2 separate regions of the Homo sapiens genome follow, and region 2 is linked to region 1. Evidence: fine-mapped expression QTL. A gene starts in region 1. The other region holds a variant in brackets. All regions are shown on one strand. Distances are between the middles of the regions.

What was found.
Region 2: its variant is fine-mapped to the expression of ARL1 in whole blood (INTERVAL, PIP 0.98).

The regions. Positions count from the first base shown.
Region 1 is chr12:101,406,192-101,409,108 of GRCh38, reverse strand. It overlaps ARL1 (ARF like GTPase 1), which reads left to right and starts at 1,337. Exons shown (of 6, transcript NM_001177.6): 1 at 1,337-1,467. The coding sequence starts at 1,464. RefSeq lists enhancers at 1,675-1,724, 1,805-1,854.
Region 2 is chr12:101,363,692-101,366,608 of GRCh38, reverse strand. It overlaps UTP20 (UTP20 small subunit processome component), which reads right to left. Exons shown (of 62, transcript NM_014503.3): 45 at 2,866-2,917; 46 at 984-1,150; 47 at 1-51. Among named protein-coding and RNA genes, the nearest start is that of ARL1, 43 kb to the left of the region's middle. The variant G/C (reference allele first, on the strand shown) is at 1,669.

The DNA of each region.
Region 1 (2,917 bases):
TATGTTATCATTTCACAACATATACAACTATGAAAACATCACATGGTACACTGTAAATATATACAATTTTTATTTAAAGCTAGAAAAATTCTTTTAAAATAAACTAAAAAGGCAGTCCATAAGCTTCTGTTGAATGGATGAAAATCTCTACCATAAATAAAAACATAATATGCAAAGGTATTAATAAGATTTGGAAGAAAACCTAAGAGAGTATTAACAGTAGTGACTACTGGGGATCACCGAGATACAGGGTATTAGGGATGGAAGGTTTACTTTTCTCTTTTTTTTTTTGAGACGGAGTGTCGCTCTGTCGCCCAGGCTGGAGTGCAGTGGCACGATCTCGACTCACTGCAACTTCTGCCTCCTGAGTTCAAGTGATTCTCCTGCCTCAGCCTCCTGAGTAGCTGGGACTACAGGCGCCCGCCACCACGCCTGGTGAATTTTCTGTATTTTTAGTAGAGACGGGGTTTCACCGTGTTAGCCACGATGGTCTCGATCTCCTGACCTCGTGATCCGCCCGCCTCGGCCTCCCAAAGTGCTGGGATTACAGGCGTGAGCCACCGCGCCCGGCCGGAAGGTTCACTTTTCAATGGATCTTTGGGAAGTTTCAAAACATACATGCTCAACCTTTAAAAATTTCTCTAGGGGAAATCCCTTCTCCACATCCTATAGGTGTGCTTCCTTCTTCCTCTCCACACACTTCACTATCAAAACCTACATTACTTCCAACAGTCGACCCTCGAGGGAATAAGTCCCTGGTCCCCACGATCGGGACCAGCCAGTCCACACTGCCGACCCCTGAAAGGCGGTCTCAGCTGCTCGGTCAGCGAGAAAAAAAGCCGGCGAGGTCCTCGTCCTGCAGGCCACAGCGAAGACAAAAACCTCTGGTTACTGGCCTCAGGTGCAAGGCTGCTCCGCATTGGCAGCGCGGTACCATTCCTATTATTATTACGTAGTCTTGTTTCTTTCTGGGAGAAAGCACCTAGGGAGAGTTGGGCTGGCCCCGCAGGGCGCTCCGGGACACGCGTCCTCTGCAACGCCGCAGCCTGCGCCAGCGTTCGACCGGGACGACTCATCGAGGCCCGACTCGCATTTTCAGTTGTCAGATTCGCCACTTTTTGGTGTCAGAATTTAAAACAAAAATTCCAATTTCTCTATTTCAGAAGCTCTTTCTGTCCAGAAAAACACAAGCAGGAGAGACTTCAGGTTTTTGAATTATTCGTCTCTTCTGGCCTCCACGGTATCTACATCCAGTGAGCGGGGACCGTGAGTCGAAAGCGACGACGCGGATGCTCAGGCCACCGTTCCCGGCGCGCAGTCGCAGCTGACCCTCGCTCCCGCCCCCGCCTGGAGTCCGACGTGGAAGTTGCTGGCTGACTGGGCTTGCGAGGAAACCGCCTCGGAGCTGCAGCCGAAGGCCAAGGAATCACTGAAGATCGGCGAGGGAGGACAGGGGGTTCATCATGGGTGAGGGGTTCGAGAAGGGCACCTGGGCGCGCTCGAGGGAGCCGCGGCCGAGGGCTGGGGTGCAGAGGAGGAGAGGGGCCGGCCAGGATACCCTAGAGTAGCCAGCTCCTCAGGGGGCGGGTCGCGGAGGACTTGACTCACTTTGGATCTTCATCTGTAGGGGTGGATCCGGCCTCTCGCGTTCTCCTCCGTCCTCTCTCGGTTCCCCTTGATTCCTGCGGGGTCCAGGGACCCGGACAGCTTGGGGACGTCCGCAGAGCCTGGGTTCGAGTTCTTTACCCTTATCATGAAGTTTTCCCTCATCCCCAGCTCCACTTGCTGGGCAGAGTTGTTCTTGCGGAGGCTGGCAACGCGTCAGTCGCAGGTTCGCCGAGGTTTCTTGGTGAAAGATGAGCTGCGGCCCCAGAGTGGAAGCTTAATCATTCTCTTTACCAGGGGCGCTGGGACGGCGTCAGTTTGAAAAACCTGAGAGCAGGTGTTGCTTATGTTGTTTTATGGCCAGTTTGGCATTTGTCTGCTAATCTGCTGTAGCGTTTCATGTAATAATACGGGTATTTCTAGTCGGCAAATGAAACTTTATTCTTGGTTCTTGGCCCGCTGATTGAGGGAACTGCATTCTCACAAGCATCAGGTAACACCCTCGCCCCGCTAGAACCCAAGTGAGGGTGCACATTCTTTAACTCGTTTCTCACCCTCCAAATGAAGGTGCAGATTCTTTGGCTTGGTTAAATCCCTCCACAGTTTTCTGGGGAGCATACTTCTTGCTCCCAAGCATCACAGGCGCTGTCCTGTCTTCCATAACCGCCTTCAGTTTTGTTCCGCCTCTCTTCTACCTGTAAATGGTAGAAAGGACTTTGTCAAGTCACACCTATTCTGTTGAACTTTCCCAAGGTTCTCTAGCCCATGGTGTTGTTCATTTTTCAACTCGCAGCTCTTAGTTATGCCATGTCTTTGCCAAATAACAGTGTGGCATCACTTCTGATGTTAACTATTTTTTTTTGTATTAATGTAACTTGTTTTTAATCTTCTCTAATGGCTCTGGATGGGAAAAGGACTGTGCTTTTTATCCTACACAATACTTGGTGTACAGGAAGCTTTCTGGGAATATTTTGTGATGCATTGGATAGAGCTTTATTATTTTTAAAAGTGGGTTTTTTGTCAAAAATAGTTATTGTTTTCAGCTTTTTTCTCAATTTCTTGTACTAGCTATATTGCTTCGTGGAGAACTCTGATTGAAGTTGGTTATAGTGGTACTGCTGCTGTACAGTACTTTTCCTGTGCGAGGATTACATTGTCCCACTATCCTCCTTACTGGCCCCTTGGTTTTTAGGGGTAGTGAGGGGATCATGCTAAAATATTCCTATTCTGCTGATTAGAAAATGAGATTCCCAAAGGCCGCGGCCATATTTCTCTTATTATTTGGTTTATCTTCTGTGCCTGCATGACACAA
Region 2 (2,917 bases), 42 kb after region 1:
AGGCAGCTCTGGGGTGGTAGACGTGGATCTGGTGCTGGGGCTACTGGATTTCTGTCAATCACGTGGCATGAGAAGAGGGTAAAGAACACTGTCAGCTGCATTCCAAGAAGTTAGAGTGGCCCTTCTAAAGTGACGAGAGCCCAGCACTAAATAATGTGCCATTTGCTTGGGTTTTGCCCCTCCCCAAACCCCCAAACCATGAGATACAGAAGAGATTATTAGGCTGTTGATTAAGGTTACTAGGACAACATATTTATATTAGGATCAACAGCAGGATACTCCCTTGTTTGATTTCTGAAAATAAATGCCAACGAGTCTCTCTTAGACCATAGAAGCAAGACCAAAATGAAGTTTACTAATATATAAGATTTTGTTTTTTGAGACAGTCTTGCTCTGTTGCCCAGCCTGGAGTACAGTGGCGCGATCTCGGCTCACTCCAACCTCCGCCTCCCGGGTTCAAGTGATTCTCCTGCCTCAGCCTCCTGTGTAGCTGGGATTACAGGTGCCCAGCACCATGCCTGGCTAATTTTTGTGTTTTTAGTAGAGAATGGGGTTTCACCAAGTTGGCCAGGCTGGTCTTGAACTCCTGACCTCAGGTGATCTGCCCTCCTTAGCTTCCCAAAGTGCTGGGATTACAGGCATGAGCCACTGTGCCCAGCCTGTAAGATATTTTAAAATCTTTTAAGGTCTCAATCTCTGTTTAATCAAAATACAAGATACAGATTTAAAATCTATCCTATCTTTGAATCAATAAATCTTTTTAAAAAATGGTATCAGAGAAATGCCAAAATAATTGGCTGTTGTCACTGCTACCTCATTTATGAGAAAATCTCATGTTGAAATGTATCACACCATAAAGTACCATCTGAGAACTCAGGTGGATATAATTTTATTTTTTACTAAAGCAAATTATTAAAACAACCCACAGAATGGCTTATCAGACGCAGAGACCTAAATGACAGTTTGTTTTTTTTCCAACTTACTTTTCTTTCTCTGTTAACAGGGGAAGATTTTCACTGATCAAACCATAACTGAGTAATAGAATGGATTCAGCTGTCATTTCCTGATTTACAATTAATCCCACTGTGATTCGGCGTAAAGTTTCATGAACTTTCCGGGCCAGTTTCAAACTCGTGGTATTTTGTAAGATCTAAAGGCAAAACATAAATGTCATGCTGAGATGACACAGAAATGCATTTTGATTTGTCATAATGGCAGTTTTCTTTTATATATTAGCTTTCTAATATACGTTTGGCTTTCTCCTAATTAAAAAGCATTCTTAATATAATTTCAAACACAGATATAACATATAAGGTGAAAGTTAACTATAATCTCAATCCCAGGAAGAACCACTGTGCAGGCTTGTGAGCCTCGGGGTTTCCTCCACTCCCTCCCTGTTCTCTGCTGGTGAGGCCTCAGGGCACAATGCCAGAGATATGAGACTTCTAAGTTAACATCAACTCTCCTGGTACATTAACAGGGGTGACTTAGAGGCAAACACACACACACACACACACACACACACACACACACACAATCAACAAAATGTATTCACTCCTCATAGAAAACCACGAGAATGAAGTGCTACTATGGCCAAGCCTCAGGGTCTGATATCAATTATTGGGCCAAATCAGAGGAACCTAATGGGAACCAGGATCAGCAACCTCA[G/C]GAAATACTTGGTGCTTCAGAGCTATTATCTTGCATGAGACATGGTATTAACTCTCAATACCTTGGAGGGACTTTTTAATATACATCACGGATATATGTGCTCTGTTGACTCTTTTTCATCCTGAAAATGCATCTAACATTCTTAGATAAGGCTCACATAAAACTAAATGCATTCTAGGAGTAATTATGGAGTTCATCTAGCACCAGAACATTTAGACCTAATGTAATTCATGTCAATAGATAGTGCTCTTTGCTCTAGTTTTAATACACAAAACTAATAAATTAATAACATTTACTGGATGTTCACCTCTGCAACAGGCACAGAAATCAATAGGAAGGTGGGTAAATTACATTCCCTGATCTTCAGGAGGCAGAATGAAACCATGGTAGGAATGTGAACTTGGATCAGAAAGATCTGGAACTAAACCCTATACCCTGACTTTTCTCTTTAACCATGTTCCTTTCTACCTTTCCAAGCCTGAATTTTCTTATTTGTAAAATGGAAGTACCATCAATCTCACAGGGTGTGCAGATTAGGAGAGATAATGTAGCAGTGCTTAGAATATAATATGTCAATAAATGCCAGTTTTCTTCCTCTTGGCAACCTGGAAGTGGCAATTTGTCCAAAGGCTTTCTAATATATATTTACTCCTAACTAAAATGAATTTCTTTGTAAATGTAAATATACATTTTTAAATAGAGACAGGGTCTTGCTATGTTACCCAGGCTGGTCTCAAACTCCTGGGCTCAAGCAATTCCTCCCGCCTTGGCTTTCCAAATTGCTGGAATTACAGGTGTGAGCCACCATGCTTGGCCTAAAACAAATTCTTAATAAAATTTCAAACATGGACATAACATATAAGGAAATGTTACTCACAACCTCAACCTCAAAGATAAGCACTATGCGGCTTGTGTGCCTCTGGATTTCTTCATGTTCTTAGCTGCTGACTTGACCCAGCTATAATATTCACCTGCACTCAATTCTTGTTGCCTTTCTTTCTCATCTCATGGTTTACATAGGGGACTATGATTTTTGAATCAAAGCATTCACTCACTGGCCATATGGTCCTGGGGCCCTATCACCAAAGGAAATCATGGGTGATCAAGAACAGTGTTTCAGTTTGCCCCGCATGGTTCCTTTTAGGAACTCATGAGATTGTAATGCTGTGATCTCCAGAATTGCATTTACGTCCTTACCTCTTTTAATGGAAGGATGAGTTTTGTAACCTGATCTTTTCCTACAAACTTG